2 separate regions of the Homo sapiens genome follow, and region 2 is linked to region 1. Evidence: fine-mapped expression QTL. Tissue or cell type: whole blood. Region 1 holds a variant in brackets; the other region holds the start of a gene. All regions are shown on one strand. Distances are from middle to middle.

Region 1 (5,696 bases):
ATTGTGCCAATCTCTCATTTTGAAATTTTGCCAATGGTCTGGTAATGCCTAGAGTGGAATGTGAAGTCACATGGAAATTTGCATCTTAGTTCTGTTACTTAGTAGCTGTGTGAAAATTAATATTTCTGAGTGCCATTTTGTCATCTGCACATTGTAGCTACCTCCTAGAGCTATTATGAGAATTAAACATGATAATACAAAGTGTTTAGCACAGTGTCTTTCATAAAAATAGATGCTAATGAATGTTACTTTCTCTCTTTCTCTTTTGCATTCCATGTCTTCTATTCACCATTTTCCCTGCCTCTATTTTCTGGTTTTATCAGTTTCTACCTTTATATAATGTCCAGAACTTTTCACAGCCTCCCCCTCTTTCTTCAGACCTAAATATCTGACCTTTTGGGAAGCAGGACAGAAACCTCTTTCTAATCCAGTAACATGTGAGGGAGAAGCCCATGCAGGAAGCTCTTGAGTTACTGTACTATAACCTGGGGACAATGATATATTATTTATCATTATTAGTATCATGTTATTTGTAGCACCTCCATACTAGGAGCATTTTTATGGCCACTACATATAAAGTTTCTTCTAGAAAGCTTCTCCACTGTGCTCTACTCCAGAGATACCATTTGTACCTTTTCATTACCAAATTGCACCTTTGCACTCAAAATCCATTTGTGAAACCAAAACTGCAGTCTGTACTTGTATATCCATTATCTGTAACTACAAAAGAGGATAATTCCTGCTTGGTGTTGCTCTGCCTGGCTTTACTAAATGCAGCCTACAGTATCTGGACAATTTTCTAATTTATCTAGATTATTTCTGTGATATATAGTGACTCGTGCCTGATTTTTGCTACGTTCACTGAAGCAACTTGCTCATTAGCAAAAATAAGTTGTCTGAGGGCATTCTGTCTATTTATTTCTTCAGTCAAAACAATGCTTACTGGACAGTGGACCAACTGCCAATAGTCAATCCAATTTTCAAGATTCACTTTCAAGGAGACCAAGGAACTTGACTATACTATCTAAAATGCAATCAATTACTTGGTAATCTACTTTTACACAATTATGGAAGGTTTTATTTTCTATAAAGTTCTGGGTCCTTGAACTTAATAGGAAGAAGCAGAAAATGAATTTTTAAGAAATCAAAATGTTTTCAGGTTTTGTTTTGTCCTTCAATAAGAGACTGCATATTGTAGCTCTTTGCTGGGACAGGAGAACTGTCCTGCCCTCACCATTACTCATCTGTCATTTGACCTTGGACAAATCAGTCCATCTCTCTGGACCCTGGATTTTTTTCATCTATACAATAAAAGGGATGATAATATTTTACCTCTTGGAAGAAAATAACTGAACTAAATAACTGCTTAAGGTCTCTTTTACATCAAGTACGATTTTTATGTTTATGTTTATATATATATACAGGTCAATATGCATACATCTTTCTGAAATGGTAGTAGACCCACGTTGCTTCTCTTGGAAGGAAAATGTCCCCAACTCTGAATCTGAGCTTTCTCTGAAAACATTTACTGGCATTCCACTTTTAAAAGAATGTTAATGTACTGATCTTTTTCAAGTCATCAAGGAAAGCCATTCCAGTTTGTCTACTAACTCTACACTCAGTACTGATATGACATTACATGAAGGATGTTAAAAATACAAATAGAAGTATGTTGTGGAAGGCAACTAGGGTTCTAGTTCCACACTGATACAAATGAACTGTGTAAATATGGAATGTCACATCCATTTTGTTCCCTAAGGTCTGCTCCAGTTCTAAAATTCTGTTCCTATATAACTGATAATTTTTTAT[A/G]TTCTTCTGTATTGGAACATACTAGTTAAATGAACACTTTCAACCATGCTCAGAATTAGTTTATTAGTTGTCAGGAACTATACCACAGTAAAGACTCTTCAATAAGATTTTCGGTTAACAACAAAATCAAAGAATATTTGAAGTTATAGCATTACATCATCAGAAAGAAGATTAATAGTTGTTTATACCCTAATACCAGGAAACTATTTCCACTAGCTTCTGAAGCCCTTCTACATCAAACTCTTTTAGTGTATGATGTAAAAATTTTATATTTTGAGCCAGTTAATCATGATCTTCCCCTATAACTTTCTGGCAAAGGATTCTAAGTATTCGTTGGCTCTTCTACATGGCTTCAGAATGATTTATAGCATCTATGTGAACATTTAAAAGGTAGTACACACCCCTGGGATTTCATCTTACAGTACATTATCTATCTCAGATCAAATAAATGGAATTTTTAGTATTTTGGGGGGGGGGGGGGCTATGGTCTATAGCATTTTTTTGCTCCACAGCTAGTTAAATGAAACTTTTTCATTAAGAACATGGTACTCCCTCCCCTTTATGCTTAATGGATTTATGTAATTATAAAACATATAATTAAAGTCAATTATGTGCTAATACTACTTTATATTTTGCTACCAAATGCTTTTGGCTACCACATCAAACCCTGGAGCTTGACATATATAAACCTGCTCCTTTCTTAATTTCATTAGCTCCTCCACGGTCCCATCATGACCTAAGTTGCCACCTTCCCAGGAGACAAATACAAACCAATGTGTAAATGTGTTTTACTCAGCTTTCTTTATGTTTTCCAAAGCTGAATTGTAGAACCGCATTTATACTCTGTCCTTCTCTGTGTCTCTTTTCTCTGTTCTCAGTCTTCCATTCATTTTTTGTAGAAATTCTAATGCATGATTGTAATAAACAACAGTGAGATTTTGCTAGTTGTTTTCTTGCATTTGGTTTGTATCACAAAGGGACATCACATTAATCCTATAAAAGTTTGAAGTATCATGGCCAACCAAAGGCCTTCTGAATGCAAGACTAGGTAGATATTTGCTATCTTGAAAACATAAGGTGTGGAGATACAACTTTAACTTCTAAATAGAGTCTACAGAAATTTAGTACCAGTCAATAAAGAACAGATACTGGCAGGCTGAAGAGCGTAGACTGCTACGCAACTGGCTTCTTGAGCTGGGGGGCGTAAATCCATAAATGTGACGTCTGGACCGAAGAGCAATAAATGGTATTTCCAGAGAGGCAAACTGTAGTATTCCTGACCTGATTATTTTTCTGCAGTAACAACCAAGTATGATTAAGCTTCTGTAATTTCAGTATACCAGAACTTCAGGAACAAAACAAAACGCATGGATTTCAAGTATGGTTTCCTCTGCTGCCACCCAGTGGTCAAAACAGGTGTCTGCACCCATCTGTGGTGACAGTAGTAGTAGCAAAAACAAGTAGTGCTCTCTGTATGCCAGTAACTTTTAACAAATTATCCTAGTTACACCTTTGGACACGTGACAAATAGTCACCCATTAGAAAGTAACTTGCTGAAATGATATTAAATAACATTAATTCTTTATTAATTCATTGAGTAACTGAGATACAGAGAAGTAATTGAGATACAGAGAAATCAAGCAATGTGCCAAGGGTCACGTAAGGGTTGAAGCCAGAATCCACCCCTGGACCCTGCACTCTGCAGCACTGTGCTGGAATACAGCAATGAGGTACGTTATCAATCTTCCAAGGCCTTGTAGGTGTTAGGAGGATATCCCTAATACTTCTGTCGATGAATAACTGAAACATCCTGGGCTCTGACCGTGTGTTGCCATATCACGTAAGTCGCTCTCTTTCCACCTAAATCATACCTGCATACATCAGGGCCCACTTTCAAGGCACTATGCTTCTTAGCAAAGTGACCTGTCCACTCTCACTGGGGCATAACATTGGACCTGATCTCCCCAACAGCCAGTGGCACTGATTCTATTAGCCGCAGACTAACAACAAACCTGCTCTGGAGTATCAGGTATTCTCTTTCTCATGCATGGCATGGGCATGGCACTACTGTAATCTGTCCATTTATTTTCAGTAGGCCATAGTTATGAAGTGTCAAAACAGGGATCAGGAAAACACCATCTCCTATCATTTATGTTGTCTTGCACAAGCCAGCCTCTCTGGGACTTCAATTTTCCCCTCCACGAGAAAGGAGAGGGTGGTTAAATTGCAAAGGTGGTTGATTAAACCATTTTGAATCACAGACCCCTTTGACGAGCCATTCTGGGGAAGCTGTTCTGAGGACATATCCAGTACATACACATAGACACCAGCTCACATACCTCAGAGTTCTCAATACCGTGGTAGGCTAAATAATGGCTCCCTGAGGATGTCCATATGCTTATCCCTGGAACCTGTGAATGTGACTCAATATGGCAAAAGAGACTTTGCAGATAGATCAAGGTAAGGATTTTGAGATGTGAAGATATAATCCTGGATTTTCTAGGTGGGCCCAATGTAATCACAAGGGTGCTTATAAAAGGACTGTAGGAGGAATCCGAGTCAGAGAGAAGGCAAAGTGACAACAGAAAAGGAGTGTCAAAAAATGTCGGAGTTACGCAGCTTGAGAAAGACTCTATCAGCCATTGCTGGCTTTGAAGATAAGGGGGTCATGAGCTAAAGAATGTGGGCAGTCCCTAGAAACTGGAAAAAGCCAGGAAATGGACTCTCTCCAAGAGCCTCCAGAAGGAACACAGCTCTGCTGACACTTTGCTTTTAGCCTGCTCAGAGCTGTGTCTGACCTGTGCCAGAAAAGTAGTAACTACATACTGTTCTTTTAGTTACAGAACTATAAAATAATACATTTGCAGTGTTTTAAACACTAAATTTGTGGTAATTTGTTACAGTGGCAATAGGAAGCTAATATACAAGCCAATACACTTCAGGAGCTTATGAGCCCACAAGCCTGTTGAATGAGACTCCCTGGATTAAGACCTCTAGGTCATTTCTAACACAAGCATCCTGATTCTATATGTGCTGACACTCTGCCTTGGGCAAAACTGTTGCTCCTGGAAAACAAATATATCTATAATATAATATTTTATGAATAAAATACAATGTGCTCTAATATTTTACAGTGTGCTAAAGTGCAGAAAGAGCTGAATATAAACTTCATAGGCATTTGTGGATGTTTTACCTTAAGCTGCAAATAAACATTTAAATATATTTTTCTTCTGTAGTTGTCAGTTAGTGGCATCAACAGAACTATTTACTATAAATTATTTCATAATGTAGACATATGCTAGCATTTCAAATGTGAGAAAGCAAATGTGAAAGCACAATCAATCAATCTCTGGATCTACATGGTGTTTTATTGATTGCACAAATTTCATAAGTCGATAATAGGTGACCTATTATTGATAAGTTTATGCCTGCCGTCATTCTTTCATGTTGAAATAACTTGAATTTGGAAAAGCTGCCTACAAAATAAGCATCTTTAGTCCAATGATGATTTAATAGATCCTATGCTGTCCTGTGAGACAGGTTTATATTTCATGGGGAAGATAATGCAAAAAGCAAAATTCATCCAAGTTATTACTGGCAGAGCTAGAATAATAATTTAATATGCGATTCAGTACTGCGCGCCATCAGGGAGCCTGATGTTTTGAGCTCCTTCTAGGAAATTGTCTGGGGCTCATTGGCATGGGGTGCCCTGAGCCAGACCAGACTGCGGGGACCCGTTTCTTCCCTTCCCCACATCCCTACACTCTTCGACCCTCTTCCCACAGCATGGCATGCCGGGGTGTTCTAGCTGGAAGTGCCAGCTCCCACCTGCAGCCCTGGAGCCGGCGAGGTGGTGGCAGCAGCAGGTCCTTTCCTTGGTGTGCCGC
Region 2 (4,000 bases), 98 kb before region 1:
CCTGGTTCGTTGTCAGATTGGTGGTAATAAAGGAACAAGGTCAACCTTCTGTCAGAGTTCCTGAATTGGGGGAGGAAGATAACTGGTGCCTCTGCCTTTGGAATGGGGTGGGTGCCAGAGAAGTCAAGGTCCTGGGGGTGTTTGCTTGCCTGGTTCTGTTAACCAGAGGTGGTGTGGCTGAAATGAGAAAGTGAAACTTTAGGAAGGTCTGAGAAGCCCTCTTCCCTTTAAAAAAAAAAAAAAAAAGGCTGCTTCTCGCAGAGTGGAAAGCCCCGGTCCCCATCCCACCAAAACCATTTGACAAGCAGGACAACGAAGAGGCAGAAGGATCTGGGCCTGTGCGCGACGCCCCGGGGGACGAGGCTCATGGAGAAGTTTCGGGCGGTGCTGGACCTGCACGTCAAGCACCACAGCGCCTTGGGCTACGGCCTGGTGACCCTGCTGACGGCGGGCGGGGAGCGCATCTTCTCCGCCGTGGCATTCCAGTGCCCGTGCAGCGCCGCCTGGAACCTGCCCTACGGCCTGGTCTTCTTGCTGGTGCCGGCGCTCGCGCTCTTCCTCCTGGGCTACGTGCTGAGCGCACGCACGTGGCGCCTGCTCACCGGATGCTGCTCCAGCGCCCGCGCGAGTTGCGGATCGGCGCTGCGCGGCTCCCTGGTGTGCACGCAAATCAGCGCGGCCGCCGCGCTCGCGCCCCTCACCTGGGTGGCCGTGGCGCTGCTCGGGGGCGCCTTTTACGAGTGCGCGGCCACCGGGAGCGCGGCCTTCGCGCAGCGCCTGTGCCTCGGCCGCAACCGCAGCTGCGCCGCGGAGCTGCCGCTGGTGCCGTGCAACCAGGCCAAGGCGTCGGACGTGCAGGACCTCCTGAAGGATCTGAAGGCTCAGTCGCAGGTCTGCCGCTGGCGCTGGGGGCGTTTGGGAGGAGCCGAGAGGCCGAGCTTTCTCAGGGCCGCTGGGGTGAGGGAAAAATCGGTGACTTTTCTCCAGATATACAGTACCCTAAGAAAATCTAGAATGGCTCCTTGCATCTAATTTGCCGTCAAGAGAATATCTGAATAAAACGAATGAAAAGGAGAAAAACGCATTCCCGTAGTATCTGGCACTGTACATGAATCGTGGAAAGTGGGAGTGAGAGTGGGCACGCCTACTCAGTGCCAGATACTGCGCTAGGCCCTTGACCTCCTGCATTATTTTTACGTCTCACAACAGCTCTGTTGGGTGCAAAATTGCGGTTTTGCCATTACAAGTAATAGTTTCGTATCTCCCCTATATAGTGACTTCACTGAGTCTAAGTAAAGTTGTTTGCCCAGCCAATAGAAAGCAGAATTGTTAGAATTAAAGGGGTCTATAGAATAAAATGGGTTTGTCTGGCTCTAAAGCCACCACTGGACTTAGAAAGCTCAGAGGTTCTTTAAAATGAACACTTCTTTCCCAGGATTTGCAGAAATTCCACATTTTGAGTTCTAAGGGAATGGTATGGGCTCCTCCCTGGGCAGAATCATAGTGCATAACTTGGACTACAGTTGACTTTCCAAACGAGAAGTTGTACTGGGGGGCTAGGGAGGTTACTGCGACACCTTACTCTTAAGGAATTAAGACCTAAAACTGTTGCTTGTTCATCATCATAACTGGCGAGTAGTTGAAACTTTATCTGAGGATTTTTAAATTTCTTGTAAAAAACCAAGTAACTAAATTACTATTTTGTTGTGTTTTCTTAAGGTGTTGGGCTGGATCTTGATAGCAGTTGTTATCATCATTCTTCTGATTTTTACATCTGTCACCCGATGCCTATCTCCAGTTAGTTTTCTGCAGCTGAAATTCTGGAAAATCTATTTGGAACAGGAGCAGCAGATCCTTAAAAGTAAAGCCACAGAGCATGCAACTGAATTGGCAAAAGAGAATATTAAATGTTTCTTTGAGGGCTCGCATCCAAAAGAATATAACACTCCAAGCATGAAAGAGTGGCAGCAAATTTCATCACTGTATACTTTCAATCCGAAGGGCCAGTACTACAGCATGTTGCACAAATATGTCAACAGAAAAGAGAAGACTCACAGTATCAGGTCTACTGAAGGAGATACGGTGATTCCTGTTCTTGGCTTTGTAGATTCATCTGGTATAAACAGCACTCCTGAGTTATGACCTTTTGAATGAGTAGAAAAAAAAATTGTTTTGAATTATTGCTTTATTAAAAAATAAACATTGGTATTTTTTGAGTGCTTTTTTTCTTCCAAATTGTGGAATTTTATATCTGAAATTAAAATATAGAGCTTAACCTCTTTATAATATTATTTAAAACAAACAAAAAAAGAAAGTGATTCATCCAAAGTAAAAGCTAGAACTAAAAGAAGTCTTATATCCTTGTTCTAGAGTCCTTTTCAAATAAAAGACTTTTGGAGCAAAAACAGTGGCAGAACAATTGAACTTCAGACATTTCTGTTAGGTTATCTGATGTTAATTTCAAGTTCATTTTCTTGCCCACAACATCTTGTTAGGAACTTTAAAATTACGGCATTCTAGCTGGTTCTATAGCACAATTGATGGCACATTGGGCTTCTAGTCGAGCCTGCTGTGGTCATTCAAAAATTAGAGCATTTTATGACTCTAATAGGGTTACAATAATAAATTAATCATGAAAAGGAAAATAAACTTTGTAAAATACGAAATTTGAAAAAGTAGTTAAGAGAATTGCAGGCAACAAGTGTTGTTTTTAGTTTATAGGATCAGAGGAAAAGTGTTAAAGCTTATATGTTATGGTAAATATAAACTAAACACAAAAGTAGAGAGGATAGTTTTATGAGCCTCCAAGTAGTTGTTACACAGCTTCAACAGAGTTGGGAAGTCAGATAAAACCAATACCAAACAAATAAATGCAAATTGTGACCTGATTTAGATTAGGGGAGAAGGGATTTGGGGAAGCTTTTTAAAAACTGAATCCTGTAGGGTAGCAAGAAGGAGCATTTCAGTCATACAGATAAAACCAATACCATACAAAGAAATGCAAATTGTGACCTGATTTAGATTAGGGGAGAAGGGATTTGAGGAAACTTTTTGAAAACTGAATCCTGTAGGGTAGCAAGAAGGAGCATTTCAGTCCTACTGAAGGAACAGTATGTGCAAAGACTAGGGAGAAAAAGATGTTAGCAGAGTTGGAAACCTGAAAGGCGACTGAAAAAAATGAGCAAGGGACTGAGTGTGCAGTGCCTGGAAACCATGAGAAGGATTTTGGTTTTCATCATATGAGCATTTTAGGAAGATGGTTTGCTTTCCTTGAGAGAAAAGGAATGACATGGGAAGCAGGAGAGCCAGGGTAGAAGGAGAGAGACTAATCAGGAGGCCACTACAGTGGAAATAGGTGGGAGTGAACTTGAACTGAGTGGATGGGGACCAAAATGGAAAAAGTAGATAGATTCAAGGTAGACTTTGTACATAGATGTGGCAGGATTTGTTGATAGAAAGTCTCTAAAGACGGTGAGAGCAATTATATCTACGGATAAAATTCTGTAACTTTATAATGCCGGGACTTTTCAGCGATCCTTGCCTTCCATTAGCTTGTCATTCCTGCCCATTCCCCAAATTTGTGGCTGTTTTCTGAATTTTAAAATATGAGATAAAAAAACTTTAAACTATAAAATAATTGAGCACTGGTCATATTTAGCCCTTCTTCCTCTTTTGGCAGAAGCTTATGCTGATTTCTGTTTACCTTTTTCTGCATAAGGCCGTTAAAAAGAACTAACCTACAGGGCAGAATATCCTGTTGTTGAGAGTCATGCGTAACAAGAAAGTTGGCAGCAGAAACAGCGTGATCAGCTTTTTTTCATTCCCTAAAAGAATGCTTTTGAAAATCATATCATACCTAGTTTCATTTTTACTTCCTTTATTTCATTTTCCAATTGCTGCTTCCTTTTTCGTCTGAGACAGGATCTCACTCTGTCACCCAGGCTGGAGTGTAGTGGCAAGATCTTGGCTCACCGCAAACTCTGCCTCCCTGACTCAAGTG

The links. PIP is the estimated chance that this variant, and not a neighbour inherited with it, causes the effect.
Region 2: CALHM6-AS1 starts here. The variant in region 1 is fine-mapped to the expression of CALHM6-AS1 in whole blood (INTERVAL, PIP above 0.99).

Annotation. Positions count from the first base shown.
Region 1 is chr6:116,558,375-116,564,070 of GRCh38, forward strand. CALHM4 (calcium homeostasis modulator family member 4) reads left to right here. Exons shown (of 2, transcript NM_001366078.2): 2 at 1-2,753. Among named protein-coding and RNA genes, the nearest start is that of CALHM4, 7.5 kb to the left of the region's middle. The variant A/G (reference allele first, on the strand shown) is at 1,810.
Region 2 is chr6:116,461,564-116,465,563 of GRCh38, forward strand. CALHM6-AS1 (CALHM6 antisense RNA 1) reads right to left here and starts at 2,141. Exons shown (of 2, transcript NR_174951.1): 1 at 2,056-2,141. It overlaps CALHM6 (calcium homeostasis modulator family member 6), which reads left to right. Exons shown (of 3, transcript NM_001010919.3): 2 at 309-891; 3 at 1,720-2,208. The coding sequence starts at 367. The coding sequence ends at 2,142. RefSeq lists enhancers at 218-327, 338-417 and a silencer at 798-877.